3 separate regions of the Homo sapiens genome follow, and all the other regions are linked to region 3. Evidence: fine-mapped expression QTL. A gene starts in region 3. Each other region holds a variant in brackets. All regions are shown on one strand. Distances are from middle to middle. Region 1 overlaps LINC01550 (long intergenic non-protein coding RNA 1550). Region 2 overlaps LOC105370655 (a long non-coding RNA gene). Region 3 holds the start of LINC01550 (long intergenic non-protein coding RNA 1550).

The links. PIP is the estimated chance that this variant, and not a neighbour inherited with it, causes the effect. A credible set is the group of variants that fine-mapping cannot tell apart.
Region 1: its variant is the best candidate, but not a certain one, in a credible set for the expression of LINC01550 in sigmoid colon (GTEx, PIP 0.82).
Region 2: its variant is the best candidate, but not a certain one, in a credible set for the expression of LINC01550 in adrenal gland (GTEx, PIP 0.75).

Annotation. Positions count from the first base shown.
Region 1 is chr14:97,962,455-97,969,157 of GRCh38, forward strand. The region is part of intron 2 of LINC01550 (long intergenic non-protein coding RNA 1550); the gene reads right to left. Among named protein-coding and RNA genes, the nearest start is that of LINC01550, 12 kb to the right of the region's middle. The variant T/C (reference allele first, on the strand shown) is at 3,437.
Region 2 is chr14:98,128,496-98,135,198 of GRCh38, forward strand. All of the region lies in intron 1 of LOC105370655 (a long non-coding RNA gene), which reads right to left. Among named protein-coding and RNA genes, the nearest start is that of LINC02295, 4.1 kb to the right of the region's middle. The variant C/T (reference allele first, on the strand shown) is at 2,720.
Region 3 is chr14:97,974,485-97,981,187 of GRCh38, forward strand. LINC01550 (long intergenic non-protein coding RNA 1550) reads right to left here and starts at 3,640. Exons shown (of 3, transcript NR_015430.2): 1 at 3,493-3,640. RefSeq lists an enhancer at 3,640-4,139.

The DNA.
Region 1 (6,703 bases), 12 kb before region 3:
ACCTCTATTCATCACATCTGAACTCTTCCAGCCTCTGCCAAAGAGGTCATTTCTTGGCACACTGAATCCCATTGTGGAGAGGGATAGAATAGGTGTGCCCTGGCCATCAGGTCACTACAATTATTATATATAGACTTCTGACTTGTGCATCCATGATCTCACAGCAGCACCGATTATTGTTACCCATATGTGTTATTAACAGCTTCCTAAGGCTGCTATAACAAAGTACCAAAGCACGGTGGCTTAAAACAATAGAAACCTGCTCTGTCATAGTATGAAGGCAGAACTCTGAAATCAAAGCGGCAGCAGGGTTACTTCCTTTGGGGGCTGTGAAGGAGAATCCCACCCATGCCTCCCTCCTAGCTTTGGGTGTCTGCCGGCAGTCCTTGGTATTCCTTGGCTTGCGGCTGCCACACTCCCATTTCTGCCTCCATCCTCACATGGCCTTCTTGTTTGTCGTCTCTTCTATGTCTGCGTATGTCCAATCTTCCTTTCCTCTCTCTTACAAGGACACCAGTTGTTGGGCTTTGGGTCCCATCCTAAATCCAGATGACCGCAATTACTTCTGCAAAGACCCTATTTCCAAATAAAGTCACATTCACAAGCGTGGAGATCAGGACTTGGCCTGGTTTCTTTGGGGGACATAATTTCACCTGCTACTGCATAGATGAGCAAGAGGAGTTTTTGCGAGGCTCAGTGACTCATCCCAGCACACAGCTAGGAAGTAAGGGAACATTAAGACAGAAGACCAGCTCCTTCTATCACAAATCCAGGCCCCTCCTGTCTCTAGATCTCAAAGTCATTATCTCTGAATGCAACCTTTGGTTTAGAGACGTACATACAGCATTCAGAGCCAAGAAGAATCAAGGATGCGGTCCTTGGAAAAAGAAACACCTTGGAACTTGAAAAAAGAAACACCTTTCCTTTTCTATGGGAGTGTGCTTATGATATCTTGCTGCATAACAACTACCCCAAGACTTTTTGGACTAAAACAACAAGCATGTTTTATCCCCGAGGTTTTGTGGGTCAGCAATTCCAGGTTGCTTAGCTGGGACTTCTGCATCCAGGTTATCCCCAGGCTACCATCAAGGTATCAGCTAAACCTGCAGCTATCCCAAGGCTTGGCCAGGAAAGGGTCTGCTTCCAGGCCCACTCATGGGGCTGTTGGAGGGCTTGGTTCTTCCTGAGCTGTTAGACTGAAGGTTTCAGTTCCTTGCTTGTTATTGGGTAGAGACTGTTCTCAGTGTCTGGTCACCTGAGGCCTCCACAGGGCAGCTTGCTCACTCAGTCAGAGAAGGGATGGAAAAACAAAAGCATGTCACCATCTACCATCACCTAATCTGGGACCTGACATCTCAATCATTAAGCCACCAAGCCTGTCCCACACTCAAAAGGAAGAGATTACACAAGGGTGTGAATGCCAAGAAGCAAGGATCACTGGGCATCACCTTAGAGACTGGCCACCAGACACAGCCACAAAAGTAGACCCTCCTTGTCTATGGGTGGAGTGATAGAAAGATGTGAGGAACAGAGCTATGGCAATCATTTTGCTGCAGTGAAAGGAGAGCTGGGGATTTTGAGGAAGGCATGACATGGAGCCTGAGGACAGGGCCAACACCAAGGGATACAGAAAGAACAGACTTAGAAGAACCAGGTCCTTGATGACATGATTAAGCCTCTTGATCAGCCTCCTCTGTAGCCAGAAACCTCGGAAATGTTCAGATATAACGTGAGATAATAAATGCCACGGACAGAAAGTCCTAACAGATGCATGACCCCACATATAAATATGGGCAAGGTAGTGAAAATAACCTCCTGAGGTTGTTTGCCTCTGGATACAAGCCTTTTTTGTCATTCATTATCATTTGCTCACAGATGATTCACATCGGTACTGTGAGCTGGCCTGGGGTGACCATCCACAAGCTCAGGGCTGGGTTTCTAGCTGCATCCATATTCCCCTTATATTGAAGAACACCTTATATTTTATCAAGAGCCCCGAAGTCAAGCAGCTGATGAGGTTAAGGTCTGTCTACACCTGAGCACACAGCCAAAACCCCCAAGTCCCAGGGACTATTCATTTCACTGTGTTCGCAGGTGGGTTTTTAACAAAATTAGTAATGAGATCTTGCCTCCAAATCCCTTTTCCCTGGTGAATTCACTGGGGGAAAATCAGCTTGTCTGGGGGGAGCCTGCGTGGCCTGTTTTTTTCAACTGATGTTGAAATCCTACCATCTCCCAGCTCTGCCCTTCCACCCGCACCCACCCACATGGAGACAACTAACCATTAACTTGTCTTTTCCCATTTCACTGAAGAATTTGCGAGCACAGACTCAGCACTCACCCTCTCTCTCTGACTTCCTCAGACTCCAAACAGCACTTATAGAAAGTCAAAGTGTAATTGTGGAGATGTATTTGTGCTCTGGCCTTTTCAACATTTTGAGAATCACACACTGTGGGCTCCCCCCAGCCCTGCCCTTCTCCCTACCCCATAAACAATGTCTGACCTATAGCCTTTGAGGTAGGTTTCTGATGGGAATTGCAGATGATGGAGCCACCTTCTGCTTTAGGGACCTCCCCCATTCCCGGGTGGACACCGCCCCCCCCGCAACCTGCTCTGCTTCATGCATAGAGGGAAGAAATAACTATTCCCTGGAGATGCCGCATCTGATTCATAAGGAAAAAAAAAGGGATTTGAGGGGAAGATAATAGGAAGGATTTTGTTTTGTTTCATTTTTTTCTCATTTCACATTTTATTTGTAGAAGTTTAATGACTAGATATCAATGTTCTCTTTTATTTATCTACTTTCAAATTTTAATGAATACTTCTGGCTATAATTACCTAATTTTTATACTTAAAATGACTAGACACCTGTAGTTCAGAGCACATTGTATTCCAGCATGATGGCTTATGGTATCAAGTGCTGCATATATATGGATTAATCAATAAGCAAATTCAATTCTTATGAGGTGCAGTTCATTCTTTAAATTGAAGAGGCATTGACAACAGGAGGGAGAGGGTTTAGTGCTACTCTCTTAGGATGAGAATCTACCATGAATGTGTTCACTTCTCTGTTGTTCCTTTATTATCCAGGGAAGTGGCTTAATATTTTCTAAGAGTGGCCATTGTAAGCAGGACTCATCTATCCTTTTTTAGATGGATTTCTTTATTTTCAAGACAGTGTATGAGTAACCTGAAGAGGGGGTGGGTCTCAGTGCCCCCTCAAACCATTCAATTCTATAAAATGCCCAAGAGGTAAACATTGGAGGACTCCACTTCTAATAGGTATGGAAAATACAATTCTACCCTCTCTAGATGTGGGTCCTGATAAGGCTAGAAACCTCAGCTTTTAAAGTCATTGGTACTCTTTGGTATAATGACAACCACTATTGGACTAGGTACCAATTTTAGGGCCTGTGTCTGAGGCACTATGCCAGG[T/C]GCATCACATACAAATTCTAGTCTCACAGCAGAGTGTGAACTGATATCTTCATTCTACAGATAAGGAGGCTCAAGGTGTGACAGACCATATCACATGTGAAAGTCATGTAGTTAAACCAGGAATATCTCATATCTAAGCATTTTTTTCTGCCCACTCTATTACATTAATTTATTGTTTCTCTCCTTTAATTTCTTTCCTTCTGGAGTACTCACACTAACCCTTCTCATGTTCTGTTAGAAGCAAGGCTCATTAGAATAAGAAAGGCAATTGCTTGAACCTCACCATCTTTTGCTGGAGCTTACAGAGAGGCAGTCATGGACCTCTTGAGACCAGGAGGCCCAGGTACAGGTGATAAGAGCCCAGCTGAGACCAGAAAGGGCAGAAGGTGAGTGACTAATGGACTCCCACCACCCGCCTACTGGAACCCTGGGGGCCTGGAGGTGAGGAATTGTGAGCTAGACTAAAAGAGCATTTTCAATTATCCCAGGAGAGAAGTGTTTAGACAGGACAATTAGGTCATTTAAAGTGACCATATTTTCTGTTAGAACCAAGGGAATTCCTAGTTCAGCCTGCCCTGGCTTTCTTAACCTCACTGGGTAAAGACATTGATGAGGGAAGAGAGGAATCTCCCCACAGCCTGGTGGCTCACAAGGTGTCATCCGAGACCTCTGTGGAGGGTTTACAATCAGGGGAGGCTTGTGGGACAAGGTGCACAGAGTAGGTGAGGATTCATTGAATGCAAACTGATGAGAGTTTTCATAATGTTAAATAGGGAAAGAAGAGGAGGGTCACAGGGGTAGGAAGGAATTGTAAGCCACAGGATGTGTAAAGGCTGTTTTGATTAGGGAAGTTTGGACCACTCTGGGTGACCCACCTCTGTGAGAAGGAGAGATGTTTGGGTGGGGCTGGTGGAGAAAACGGCACCTTGTTAAGGCCAGAAAGATGGCCAGGAATTAGCAGGGAAGAGACACGGGGAGGGCTTTCTCGGAAAAGGAGCCATAAGTATTGGTATAGTAACAGTTTTACATTTAAATTTAAAGAATGTCTTGATGGATTTTCAAGGTGAGCTTTTTAGGCCTTTCCACCTTCCAATGTCCCCTACTCCCCATTTTCCCTACAGATGAAATGATCAAATTCAAGCTGCTATGGCATTTGACTTTCAAAGCCCAATACATTTCATTCCTTGTTAACCTGTTTATTCATCTCTTATAAATACTCTTTCCACCCCCACCCCAGTTTCACCTGGAGGTCTCACACAGGAGTGCCTTCTCTCTGCTATGCTCTCTGACTGCTGTGACCCCTGTGCACCCAGGTGGGGCCACAGTCACTCCAGGAAGTCTTCTGTGCTGGCCCCACATCTTTCTCTTCTTCCTCTTTCAGCCTTCTCTGGATGCTAACAAAGCTGTTGATAGCTGTTAATGGTTTCGCTGTGTCCCCACCCAAATCTCATCATGAACTATAGTTCCCATAATCTCCACATATTGTGTCATGGGAGGGACCTGGTTGGAGGTAATTGAATCATGGGGGCAGTTACCCCCATGCTGTTCTCATGATAGTGATTCTTACAAGATCTGATGTTTTTTTTTAGGGGCTTTTCCCCCACTTCACTCATACTTCTCCTTGCTGCCACTATGTGAAGAAGGATGTGTTTCCTTCTCCTACTGCCATGATTGTAAGTTTCCTGAGGCTTCCCCAGCCCTGCAGAACTGTGAGTCACTTAAACCTCTTCCTTTATAAATTACCTAGTCTCAGGTATGTCCTTATAGCAGCGTGAGAATGGACTAATACAGCTGTGTTCTGAGTCCGATTTTATCTGTTTTATGGGATTGCGATAGCCCCAGCTCTGCTGTGTACTCTTGGAGCACAATGCTCTTGCTGTAGAATTCCTCAAATTCCCCAACAGACCCTAGACACCATGGATCTTTCCATAACACTCTGCAATTAAGGGCTGGTTCCCAATGACTGACTCTTGAAAAATACTAGACCTTCTTCCATTAGCAAAATGAAACAAACAATACCATTTAAACTTGACCATAATGTGTTTGAAATCTCATTTTCTCTTAACCAAATGTCCTCTACTTTTTTAGTTGAACAACTTAAACTAGAAATTTACTATACAAGTTATAAGTCTGAGGTATTAGACCTTCCTTTTTTGATTACTGGTGGCAGTCTGATTTGTTTATATAGTGCTTCCGAGTTGACAGGAAACTTCTGGAGCCATTATCACTTTTTCCTACACAAAGGACTGAAAGAGTATTTTCTCTCCATTTGACAGATGAAGAAGCTAAGGCATGAGGGAATGAGCAAAAGTAAGCCCAATATGCTGCAGGAGAGGAAGGGGATCCAAGGATACCTGACAGAAAATTTTCTGCTCATTTTAAGGCACTGGCCATTGTCTTCTTCTTTTTTTTTTTTTTTTTTTTGAGACAGAGTCTGACTCTTTCACCAAGGCTGGAGTGCAGTGGTGCAATCCTGGCTCACTGCAACCTCCGCCTCCTGGGTTCAAGCGATTCTCCTGTCTTAGCCTTCTGAGTAGCTGGGATTACAGGCTTATGCCACCATGCCCGGCTAATTTTTGTATTTTTAATATAGACGTGGTTTTGCCATTTTGGGCTGGTCTCAAACCCCTGACTTTAGGTGATCTGCCTGCCTCAGCCTCCTAAAGTGCTAGGATTACAGGCATGAGCCAATGCACCCAGCATGGCCCTTGTCTTATAAATTCTAAAAAGCAGATACTACTGCATTTACCTAAGACCATTGACAGGGAGTCTGAAAACTCATAGACATTCATTGGAGTGGAGTGAGAGGTGGGAAAGTGTGTTGTTTTGGTGGAGTGAGGCTCAGATGCATTTCTCATTCTTTCTCTTCACGTAATCGCAGCACTGTGGGAGGCCGAGGTGGGTGGATCGCCTGAGGTCAGGAGTTCGAGACCAGCCTGGCCAACACAGGCAAACCCCGTCTCTACTAAAAATACAAGAATTAGCTGGATGTGGTGGTGCGTTTCTGTAGTCCTGGCTACTCGGGAGGCTGAGGCAGGAGAATCGCTTGAATCCGGGAGACGGAGGTTGCAGCGAGCCGAGATTGCACCACTGCACTCCAGCCTGTGCAACAGAGTGAGACTCATCTGAAAAAAAAAAAAAAAAAAGAAGTAAAATTGTGTAGGAAAAGATTGTATTTCCTTCAAGCCCAGATTAAGGGTTTTGCAAAAATCAGTTTAGGAAGAAAAAGGGATGGAACAGAGCCTTCTGTAATATTTTAAATCAAAG
Region 2 (6,703 bases), 150 kb after region 3:
TCATCATCCCCATTGAGATGAGTCTAAGTCAACTGGGTCACCTGGTGAGCAGGACTTTATAATCGCTAGGCCAATTAGACACTGTGTCTTGAAATCGTAAAGCATAAGGACAGTTATCTGCAAAAGAGACACTCTGTTCCTTACATGTTAAGAATGACTGTATCAATGACTGAAGAAGTCACAACATCCGTTTCTTCCTCCCTGTGGAAATTCTTTCCCTTTTCCTCCACCTCACTTCCCCACTGCCCATCAGTCTATTTGACACAACAGACACCTCTGAGAGCAAATGTTTCTATATTTATTACAACTGTGCCCATGTATCTCAAGACTAGACTGCCAGTCTAGTCCCCCCTTAACCCTGCCCCACAAAACACCGAATTTCTCATGTAAATTGTAAGAATTTATTTCCAAACTCTGCCATAATTTTTAACCATCAATTTGGGTGCCATTTCTCTAGACTTTATTATTTCAACGTCATTTCACAAGGAATGTCTGATATACAAAGTGAAATATAAAGTGAAGGAATGATCAGGGAAATTCAAAGCACAAAAGCCGCTTAAATTCACGTTCCTGTACCTGGGTGGTTTTGTTGAGATGCTGTGAGCAGGTGGTACAGTCTTCAGGCCCAGCAGTTATCATACTTGCCTTTAGGAGTTGGTTAATGCTGGCTTGGGCACTGCCCAGGTACAACTGAGCAACACTCACCAAGGGTAATTCTTTGTCACATACATATTAAGTGTCTTAGTGAAAACCAAACAAACAAAAGAAACAATCTGCTGTCAAAATGTTGGCCTTTGACTTGGAGTCAAATAAATATGCTGGATTTGGGATCTGCTAGACCAAGCTTTAAAGCTCATCTCCAACACATAGATAACTCACCTTGAAATGCAGTTTTCCACCTGGAAAATCAGAGTAATAACATTTGCCACAGTAGCATTTTGAGGGGGATGTTAGGGATATAATATGCATTCTATATAGAATGACACTTTATAAGCTTGTAATAAATTGTTACTCTAATGAGTATAATTATCATCTGTTGTGTCTCCAAAGTAGAACCATTGTCACCCATTGAATGTTTATAGCTTCTACTTGGAGTTGTGACTTCTGGTAGCCCTCATCACCATGGCCAATGACCATTTCCTCCTTTATCTTTAAGACTTAAAGTCCAATGGTCTCTCCAGTGAGTTAACCCTAGCTGAACCCCAAATTAGTTTCCTTTTGTCAGCTTCCAACCAGCTGCTTCTGCTGAGATCTGCTTGTCTTTCCCTCGGAGCTCAAAGCCATAGAGTTTTAAGAATTCAGCAGGGGATAAACTAGAAGCTTCTTCTGGATTATTTAATATGGACCATCAATTATTCATTTGCCCCTGACCATTGTCTGGGATGTATAAGGAATAGGTTTAGGCCCTAGCAACTAAGTAAGCACTGAGCAGAAGATGTTATCGCTAATCCCTTGTGAGGTCACCCTGCCCTACTGCACATCACTGAGCTTGTGGTCCCAAGAAGCAGAGCCTGAGATGGAGATCTTTGTGCAAGTGATTTACTGTGAAAGAAACTTTAAAAAGAGGGAGGAAATCAGGGAATGGGCAGGTGAAGATGCTGAGCAAGGATGAAGTCTCAGATGCAGACTCACTCATGCCTGATCCCACAGAAGCTCTGGGGTATAAATGGCACCACAATGTTGGTCCCCTTGGTGACTTGACTCCAGACGATTGTTCCCATGCATCAGTTAGCTATTAGCTGCAGGCCACCTGTGTTGTGGTGGGTGGGTGGAAAATGCAATTTCTAGGGTGAGGAGTTCTAACAGCAGAGGGTGATTCTCTACAGAATGGTGCAGCTTTGAGCCTACAACAGCCAAGACTTGCAGCAATTGGAAAATGGGTGATCAGTCTGAATAAAGCAGATCTATACAAAGTCACAAAGTGACCACTAAACTGATTGCTCTTCCTGAACCCCTGAGACACACACTTGCCCCCATTTTACATAGCAAGTGGGACTTGGTCCCGATTCTCAAATGAGTGCCCAGAGGAAACAATAGATCCTCAGAGCTCAATTCTGCATCTGACAATTTCCTACTATCCTGACTGTTGAGTGCATTCATAATCATTTATCTAATGCATCTCTTTTTCACCAGATGGCAAACTTCAACCCAGTAAAGACGATGTGCCATATCACCTTTATCCAGAACATTGCCTACCCTACAGTCGATGCTCAATAAAAGCATGTGAACATACACACATGAACATACAAATCTACACAGATGTGGCATCTCAGGGATGTATAATCATTCTCAGAAGTAGAGCAGTTTAAGTTCATGTTGAGAAAATATTGGCTCTAACTGTAATGTAATCTGCTTCTGTGTATCATGGACTTGGCACCATCCACCACTTACATCATTCCACAGAACAGAGCCAGTCCTGTTGTTAATCATCCTGATTCCTGACTGTGCTAAAGCTCACCGTGGATAGAAATGATTGGCATCTCTGATATGCAAAGACCTAGTGAAGGTTTGCAATGACTGACTTTCTTTGACCTGGGCCACTGTAGATATCTAAGCAGAACCTCCTCTCCCAAACTGGCCTAGAAAAGTGAAAAAAAAAAAAGGTGGGGTGGGGGGACTTGGAGGATTTCACTCTCTTCTGGACGATAAGAATAAATAAGGAAGAGTCACCTCCCGATGACCACACAGCCAAGTTATAAAGGGGCTCCCATCACTTACA[C/T]GTGTGCAGAGCAAACCTGCCCATGCCCCACCTTCAATCAAAAAGTCTTTTCTGTTGCACAAGCCCAAGCTTCCAAAACTCTCTCTCCTTGTCCATCATTGCTTCCTTCATCCTGTTCTCATTCTCTGATCATTTTTATCCCTACCTGTCCAAGACATGGTGGAGAGCAGACTCAAGGCCTGACCAAGTCAAACTCAGGATCTTGAATATATAACTTGCCCATGATCCCATATTCTGAACTATCCCTGGACATAGCTTCATCTTCACTTTGAGTCAAAATCATCTTTCCTGCTTGCCAGATCTGGTTCCTCCCCTACATATACACACAAAGTAAGCCTCCTCTTTTCAATATAGTTGTCATTTCCAGAGTCACTGTCAGGCATGAGCGTGTTGACCACACAAGCAACACTCAAACCACAGGAAGCAGGACTTGGAACTAGAGGCCAGAGTGAAAGAGTTCAGATATGGAAGGAGTCCAATCAGATAGAGCTCAGGACTCACATCATGTAGCTTTTCTGGAAAGAGGGCTGAAAACAGAGGATAAGTCCTGGGATTTGGTGCTCAATGTCATGTTCCTGGGGAATGGCATACCTCAGAGCCAAGGGTGCTTATTTGCACAGCTGCACACTGAGGCTACAGAAATGCTCAGTGGCTGTGTGGCTGGAAGGGGCTGCTGTAATGTGTGTGCATGGGGAGAGAGGGGCAACCCTGAAGGCAGAATGGGTTTGGCTGCTCAGGTCCTGTGACTGTGGTTGCTAGGAGGCTCAGGCTCAGTTTTGAAAGGAGCCTCTGAACTCTTGGAAAAGCTCCTTCCAAATCAGAAATGATGAGAAGCTGAACACAACCTTCGGCTCAAGTTCACCAGTGGAGAGGTCAGGAGTAAGTAGTGCATGAGCCAGGGGTTATCAAATTGAACTTTATGCTCTTAAAGATAAATACCATATCCAAATGCTGTGTCTTCTTTGCTAAAAATTACCAGCCAGCCTGGCTATTTATGAACTTTATTCAGAAGTATTTATTGAGCACCTACCGTGTACCAGGCACTACATTATACATTATGGATACTCACACAAAGTCCTAGTTCCTGCCTGTTGTGGTTAATTTTATGCGTCAGCTTGACTGGATTGCAGACTAATTAGATATTTGATCGCACATTATTCTGAGTGTTTTTATGAGGCTGTTTTGGAATGAGATTAACATTTAAATTGGTGGGCTTTGGATAAAGCATACTGCCCTTCTGAATTTGAGTGGGCCTTAACCAATCAGTTGAAGGCCTGAATAGAATAAAAAGGCTGACCTTGTCCTACGTTATGGGGAACGTCTGCTACCTGACTGCCTTGAGCTGGAACATAGGGTTTTTTTTTTCCTGTGTCAAATCTCTTTCTGGGCTGAGAGTCTGCTGGCCTTCAGACAGAAACTTATACTATAGACTCTCTCGATGCTCAGACTTGGACTGGAACTAAATCACTGGGTCTCCTGGCTCTTGAGCTTGCCAACCACAGACCTAGCCACGTGAATGATAGGCATCCATTTTCTCCCTACCTTTCTGTACTGCCTTTCACGATGCTGGCTTCACCCTCTATGCAATATTCTGGATGTTCTGGATTCTTCCTCATTGATTAAAAAAAAAATGGCTGTAGCTGTTGCAGACTTTACACCCTTACAAACTACTATCCAGAGAAAAAGAAAGAGTGCCGAGAGATCCTATGAAGAAAAATAAGGCTTCCCTTTCTCAGAATCTCCAATAAATACTTCATATTTCCTTGTCTCTGATTGGGTTGTGTACTCATCCTTGAACCAATCACAGTGGCCAAAGGGATGGGTACAATAATCGGTAAAGCCAATGAGAGTCCACTCCTGAAACTAGACCCAGGGGTTAATTTTGCTATTAATTACATCTGAGAACAAGAGGGAGTGGTTCCCCCTTAACAATGCTAAGTACTGTTTCCTGAAGATGATTGGATGGAAGAAAGAGAACAAGTACCATACAAATTCACTCCACTGACCTCCTGAGTTAAGCCCTTACATGTGCTGTTCCTCTCACCTCTGCCAATTCCCCTACTGTCATTTCTCATCTCAGACTAGTCCTTCTATCCCCAGTGACTGGTTGACATTTCTGGGGAGCTCTCCTGACCACTCCCTTCCTAGACCAGATTAAGTGGCCCTGTTTTGCCTCCTCCGACACTCCCCTAACAAGCACCTGCTGCTCTCCTGGCACTTCTATCAGTGTCTGAGTCACTTGTTTACTTGTTGCCCAAACCCACTGGACTATAAATTTTTTTCACAGTATTGCCAAGAGAAAACACATAGCTTCAGGTGCTAGGAGCTGTGCTCAAAACTATTTGAAAGGTGAATGCAGGAATGGATGGATGAGTGAATGAATGAGGTGGGTGAATAATGAAATGAATGAATGAAGTGACTTAGACTTTAATCTTAACCAACTGAAAGAAAGAAAGGTCTCATTATCAGCACTCCAGGAAAGCCAGGAGAGATCTTGTTTTCCTAGATACTGGTCAAATTTGATAGAGAATATTGTTTTGAAATATGAAATGCTGAAACCAGGGAAGAACCTGATTTAACATCGTAAGAAGAATCAGACGTACAAAAATAGCAAGTGAATGCAGTTAATTACGATTTAAATATTGATCATAAAGGACTCTTTCAGCCTGAATTAACATAGTGAATTTCAAATCAAAGACCCTGTATAATCAGATAAAGATTGACCATTGACCCTGGCATTGTGCCAGATGACTAAGTCAGGTCTCATCCTTTCTTGGGAAACCTCCCCTTGGTGTTGACATTCCAGGGAGAGGCATGGGTCCAGCACTGCACCCAAATATTGAGTCTGCATGGATGTAATCAGAGATGGGGCACCGGACTGTCTTTGAAAGGGATTTCCTTCAAACCATGAAACTGATCATTAATCACTTTTGCGTAGCTTGCTGTGTTGTTGCAATGATGGGGAAATTCAAGTAAAAAACAAAATTCACCTGACAATAAAATATAAATCTGTGTCAATATCACAGTATATGTGGCAAAAAGCAGCCCAACCATGGTCTCAACTCAAGATAATCAGGACAGAAAGTCTATATAGCACTTGGAATCTCACAGGAGTCTTGGCTTTCCTGTTGTCTTTACTGTACTTTGCTTTAACCAACCTGGAAGGACAACATCACCACACCTGTCTTGCAGAAGAGAAAACTGAGGCCCAGAAGGCTAATGGGATTTGTGCACAGCTACTAACAATTGTCCACCTAATGATTTGAATTCAGATAGCTTCTTTAATGCTCTTCAACACAACTTCCTCACTCTAAGTCAAATGTGAGCAGCATTAAAAGAAAATAAAAGTACAGTATTGTACAGAAAGCAACATACGTCATTCATGGCTGTGTGTGTCCATAAATATGTGTGTGTATATATATATGCATGTATATATGTATCTATATGTATGATAAAAAATAAAAATAACAACTACAACAACAAAAAAACAGAACATGGAAGTAAAAAAAGAGAGTGATTTTCCAGCAGGTTCCTGCAGAGCCCTTCTCTTGATTCCTGAGAGGTTCAATTAACGGATGCAAGTCATAAAACAGTGCATTTTCTCTCTGCTATGATGCATTGTTTTTAATCTCACTGCCTTGTATTATATCACATTCCTATAATTCTTCCGACAGGAAAAGGCTTGTTTCATAAAAATATAGTCCCCAGCATTTGAAATATAAGTTCACATGCAAGCAACATATATATCACCAAGCTGGCAAACTAACTCACTTACTTAATCCACTAAACTTCAGGTGCTTTCTATATTATGTGAAATGGCTTGAAACAGGCAGAAGCTGCCAGGACCCATCACGGCTTCTTTGCTCAAGAGAGACAAGAGGAGAAGGGGAGAAGGGAGCGGGGGGAGTGGAAATTCCCTCAGTGGATTCCACAATAACATGCCTTTCATTATCACCCAGTGTCAGGACACTGGGTAATGTTCAT
Region 3 (6,703 bases):
CTCCAAAGCCCAGGCTGATACATATTTTAAAAATTTCTATGAGAATAAAAAATGGCCCTAGAGTCTCTCAGCCTGAGTTCCATCCTGTCACTTAATAGCTAGGCATTGTTGAGTGCCTTACTTAAGGTAGAAAGCTCTGATTTTGTTGTCTGTAAAAATGAGACTAATACTAGAATTTTCCTCATAGATCTGTCAGTACCTTTTAATAAGTTATTCCAGATTAAACACTTAGCCTTGTGCCTGATACAATACATGTTGGCAATGATCTTAACACTTTTCTGTTTCTCTTCTTCTCTTAGCTGATATGTTGAGACTGAGCTGTTTTACTTCAATGACCCTTTCTTCTGTGCCATCACTTCCTTTCTGAATTCATTGAATTATTCTAAGTAGAGAATATCCTCACAAGGTGGTTTTGTGGATCCACAAAACCCTACGGTGGTTCCAGAGTAATGTCTAGTGCTGGATAAATGTCTATGGCCCTGAACTTTGCGGGGAGAGGATTGGTGAGTTGAGTCAATACGTGTTGAACTGTACAGCAAGAAAACTCAATTCCTTTCTTGTGATAATTGAAATCATTTCAATTCATTTCCTTCTTGGTTGGACAGAAACATGTTTTCAGTAGTGAGCAAATCTTGAGGGAATCCATTGACCTGAACACTCATATAATGCATGAAGTTAGTGGACAAAAAATGATATTCATCTTCAGTTAATAATAGCATTTTCTTCTGCAGCACCTAAACTTAGGGGTGGTGAGGGATACTATTGGTGCAGTCACTGTGCCACCGGCAGATGCATGACCTTTGTTGTATCTAACTATAATTGGATCTATGGTGAAATAAAATAAAAACCAACACAAGTTTTGACACTAAGATAATAAATTATAAATTATGGAAGTCTACGCCACCAAGGATCTTGTAAACAACAGGCTGGTCTCTTAGCAACAGACCAAGGAGAGCAGGTTGTTGATAGGAATGGAGCAGACAGGATTGTTTTGTAGTGATTACTACCAAACACCAGGAACTACATTTCAACACCTGCCCGAGGCCCCATCCCTGCCCAGCCTTTCTTTGTCCAATGGCCAGTGACCCTTTCCCACTGACCCAGATGACCAGACCCCATGGAGGGGACAATAAAGATATGGACTGAAGGATAGAGGTGGGCTGAGGATGCCCTGTGGGAACAGGAGGGAACTACAGAGGGGGCGGGAGAAATAAATACATTCTTATTTGATACTGTTTAAAATTAGGACTCTAAACGGGGAACTCCTCTTTTCCCTGCCCCCAACTCCCTTTGGTTTTAAAAATCTCACTGAGAGTGGTTGTCATGAAGGAATTTAGACAAGACTTTGACAAGGTGCCAAAATGGTTTATTTTAAAATGTTGTTCCCGAAAGCACCGGAATATTAAGTTGGAGCAAACGTTGCTTGGAAGAGCGAAGGGGTTGTGGTCACACATTCTTGGAAGAAGGGTGATGGAGATCAAGGTGTTTGTAACCTGGAATTAACAAACGCAGGTGGACCGAAGGACTCAGTCACCAGGGAGTTTTTTTTTACAAATACATGTGTAAGAGTGTGTGTGAGTGTAGGTGAGTGTGGGTGTGTGTGTGAGTGTGGGTGAGTGTGTGAGTGTATGTGTGAGTATGTGTGAGTGTATGTGTGAGTGTGTGTGTGAGTGTGGGCGCGTGTGTGTGAGTGTGGGTGAGTGTGTGTGTGAGTGTGGGTGAGTGTGTGGGTGAGTGTGGGTGAGTGTGTGTCAGTGTTTCTCAACTGCGGGGCATTTTCGGAGTTGGGGTGCAGAAGGAGATTTTCTTTAATTAATTAGATGTTTACCTCCAGCATCATCCCTCAGTGGTTTAGACAATCATCTGCCCACATGTTAGGAATGAGATTCAAGAAAGCCTCTTGGAGTGAAATTTTCCTGGAAATATCCTGATTCTTGGCGGCACACACCCTCTCCCTCTTTCTGTGATAGAAACAGCCAGTTCTGCATTATTCCAAACCACAAAGCAAGCGACATGCCATCCCAACTTAGGATATGAAGGAAGTATCAGCCCCCTAATTGCACAGGGGCCACACAGCCTGCATCTCCCTCCATCGTCCCGACTGCATGCTTTTGATTGTTTCATAATAAAAGTGGCCGGCTAAATTATGACTACTTGTGATTTATTTGCCATGTCATTTAGACTTTTCATATGTATAAATTTGCCATTTGAAAAGAAAGAGAAAATTCACTGCTATTCCCCAAGGCCTCGTTTTTGGGGAGCTCCTCTAACATCATGAACAGAGGCTTTGTGACTTCTAAAGTGATTAGCTCCTATCCGGAGGTTTTGGAACATATCTGTGCTCAGAAGCAGTCTGCCGGGGTGAAATTCTATCTGGAATAGTGTCCTAACCCCATCGGAGAGAGACTCTGAATTTTTAAAACGCCTGTTAAGGACCCCTGGGTATGAGCCCCGCACAAACATGTCTGCGGCACCCACAGCTGTGCCTCAATGAAGGCCCAATTTCTCCATTGCACAGATGAAATTGCAAAGGCCCAGCAATGTTAGCCAAATTCCCCAAGCTTAATGCCAGAGCCTGCTTCCACTCCAGGACAAAGTGGTTTCAAAGTCCATACTTGCCCCACCCTGGTGGCCTGCCCTGGGGAAGGTCACTGCCAAGAAGGCTCCTGGGCCGTCTTGCAGCTGCTGCCTCTTCTTTTAATTACGAAAGAAATGCATCATCATGAAAAATCAACAATACACAAGATATAAAGTTAAAAGGCAAAGTCCCCCCTCATCCTCTCTCTCAGCCCCTCAAGTATATTAGAAGATCTTTTTAGGGTTGAATTTTCACTCTGCAGGAGGGTGTTCTGTATACAAAGAATACGACCCTTTCTTCCTCTTTAATTTGCTTATAGCTGGTACATTTCAAAAAAAAATAAAAAGTGACCCATGCCTTTGATGTTTTTTTTTTCCCCTTATTTTTGTCAACATATTGTGGAGAATGCTGAGTTCTTTGAATTGTTTTTCCCTCTGACAGCAAATCACCAAGATGTACTTTTCCAGAGCCTAACATCCTTGAATTCACAAAAGTTCCAGTCTGGAGTCATAATGTGGAACGTAAGCAGTTCTAGTCAGTTCTGATCTTGGCAACATGAATTCTCCCCTTTCCCCGGGGAGACTCAGAAACCTGCATTTTCACAAGATTTCCCAAGTGACATGTGTGCACAACAGGGTTTGAGAAACCCTGTGCTGGACTCAGCTGCTTCAGAGAGAAGACACAGAACAATTGCCAAGCTATCAAAAAAAGCTCAGACTGACAGCAGAGAACTCAATAGAAATGCCCCATCCGACTGTTGAAACTCAGGCCCAAACTACTGCAAGAGAGTGGAGAACTGTTTCTCCTCTGAAAAGGCCCGATTTCGACTAAATGAAAGCAAAACTGTAGGGACCATTTCCCACCTAGTAGCTTGAAGCCCTACCCGGTCACCAAATTGGCCTAGCTGGTCCTACCTGCATTTGGTAAGAGCCGGGGATTGGGACGAGGCAGAGAGCAAGACCAAGCTGGTTTCCTCTCCGGTTTCCTCCGGGGTGGCTGGGTCCCAGGTCCTGCCCCCGCCTCGCCCTGTGCAAGCTCGGTGCAGTGCAGCCCCTCCGGCTCTCGCCCCACAATGCCGTGCGCAGGCTGGCAGCAGTTCAGCTGAGGACTAAACGCTTGGCTCAAGTTCAACACGGCTGCCAAGATTTGGCAACCAGAGAGTTGCAGGGAAGCAGCAGGCTGCTAAACCCTTTCACATTTTTAATTAGATCCACACACCCATGTCTTTGAGCTATCATAAATATACAGATGACATAGAGAGTATTATTCGGGGTTAAAAAAAAAAAAAAGGAAGCAAACTCTACTAAGGTACAGCTTACCTTATTGAAATAATTTCCCTATCACTAGTTTGAGGGCTGAGGAGGAAAAAGAGAAGGTAGTGATATTTGCTTAAGTAGAACCACATCTGACAAGGGAATCTACCCAGGATCTGGAAAACACAGGTCTCGGCTGCCTTGCTATCTTCCTGGGCTTCGAGAATATCACCAGAAGAGGGCATTCTTGGCGCCGGCTCAGCCCTGTGCAGCCCGGAGCTGGCAGGCAGCAGTGCTGGAGGAGTCATCCCTCAGGCCACTCCCACCTCCCGTTCTTGGGGATAGCTTTAATATCGCCACGGAGCAGAGAGGTTCTCTCCTTCGCCCTAAATGCAGCAACTTTTATACTCCATGTTGCCTTACTATTCTTCTCGTTTTATTTCCTTCTCTGGATTGTTTTTGGGTATCTTCCCCTGGAAAACAATTGCAGATGCTTCTAAATTTTTCTAAGTCCTGTGCCGCAACATGCTCAGCTTCTTCCCCTCAGAACCAGCCTTTCCCCTTGCACTCAGCCCCTGGGCGATTCTCCCTCCGGGGAGGAAAGAAGATTCAACTCTTGATTCAAATGCTCCGGATTTCACTCTGGTTTCGCTGTGTGGCTTTGGACATAGGATTTAAAGCCTTCACGTTGGTTCCCTCATCTGAAAGATCCCAAAGCAATTCTGGCCTCACAGAGTGGCTCTGGGGTTTAAATCCTATGTACAAGGCTCGTAACACAGTCAGCACCCAACACTGAATATTCGATAGAACATGTGCCTTGTAGACAGTCAGCTAACAAACAACTCCACCAAAACAACAGTGCTAGTCCTTAGTCTTCTTCTTCCCTGAACTGCTTCTCCTCTTGTTTGTGACAAAGGCCACCCATGTTTCTCAGACAACTAACCCTAGTCTGATCAACTTGCCGTAAGATGAGAGTGAGCCCATGCATTGGTGTGCATGCCCTTAATTTAAAAGACATGTTAAAAAGGAAATGAAACACTTGAAATGCAGGAAAGAAGTGCCTCTGGTTGTCCCATCTGAGAGCACAAAGTTTATAAATAGAACCATCACAAGCATCAAACACGAGCTGTGCTAAGGCATCAAACACACATACATACACACACACGCACACACATGTTTGTGTCCTTGGCTTATGGTGAACAATTTGTACACCTTTCAGTGGCCCCCGCAGAAAACCAGAGCTTGTAGTGGACACTTGGCAGCATTTGGTCTTTTCCTCATCCTTCCTTCATTTATTTTTTCTTCACATATGACTTGAAAATAGAGCATGTTTTACTGTGGCAAAATTCCCTCTATACTTGACCTGCAAACAGGACAGTCAGGCTAACTGGGATGACCTGGTCCAATGAAGTGGGCTGGAGACAATTCTACGCCCAATAGGCACCTTTCAGCAGATGGAAAGGGTGAGGACAAACAGGTTGGTGGGCCTCAGCACCTCATCTTTTCCTGTAGTCTCTCTTGCTCCCCAACACCTCACTATCTCCCCCAATCCCCAGGTACAGGGGATTTCCTTTCACTAGAAGAAGAAAGGATACAAGCTTCTTATGCACGTGTGCACACACGCACACCCATTCATGCTCACAGACACTGAAACAAGACCCTTACACCAGGACTGTTCCACTTGGAATACAGAGAGCAGTAATGGCTCCCACAGCCATGAAGACCCAGGCTGAGTCCCACTTGCCTCTATGGTCCTGATCAGGCTCTGACAGGGAGCACACTGCTGCTCATGATTAGTTATTTATACATGAGGAAGCAGCAAATTTCTATGAGAGTAAAGTAAGATATGATCCACATCATGCTTTCCTGGAGCAAAAAGGGTCAAGCTGAAGCCGGTCTCATTCTCTGAGCTATCGTGGGCTGCACCTACACGTCCTTCCCACAGACGCATTGAAGGAAACGGGCCCTGTGACACCCTGACCCTTTCTGCACTTTATGTAGGGTGAAGGAGGTAGGCTGGGAATTAATACATGCACTTCATGTATTTAAGGGCCATTCCCTAATAGTACTCTGAGACTTCCTGGGAAATATTATTAACTCAGGACTGACATGTATTAGTCTGCTTGAGCTGCTATAACAAAATACCACAGACTGGGTGACTTAAATCCCAGAAATGTATTTTCTCAGTGTTCTGGAGGCTGACAAGTCCAAGATCATTTCTGGCTGGCCTGGTTTCTGCTGAGGGCTCACCTCTTGTCTTGTAGACAGCCACATGGCCCTCCCTTGGTGTGTGTGCCTGGGGAAATAGCATTCTGGTGTCTCTTATAAAGACACTCATTCTATCATATCAGGACTCTACTTTTATGACCTCAGTAAGTCTTACTTCCTTCGAGCCCCCATTTCCAAATATGGCCATACTGGGGTTTAGAGCCTCAGGATATATATTTGGAGGGATAGAAATTTTCAATCCATAATAAAAGCATTTTCGTACTTTTGTGCATTTTGTACTTTTGGAAGGAGATGGAGTCAGATGGAAATTCTGCTCACTCCGCCACCCACTAGCTGTGTGGCCTTGTATAAATCTATTAACCACTCTGAGTCTTATTTTCCACTTTTGAAAAACAGGGGTTAAAAATGCTTTCCCTAGAGTGTGATTGTGAGTAATAGGTTAGAGTAATATATACACAGTTCCCGGCCAAGGGAGGCACTCAAAAAATGCAACAGCCATAGTGGTAGTTGATACCATTATTTATTATTTGATGTTATTATTTGTTAAAACCACCCAGAGAGTGTTGCCTGAAACACTGGCTTAGAGCTTTGCATCCCAAATGTTCTCTATACTGCCGTTTGCATCTGTTTATCACCAATGCTG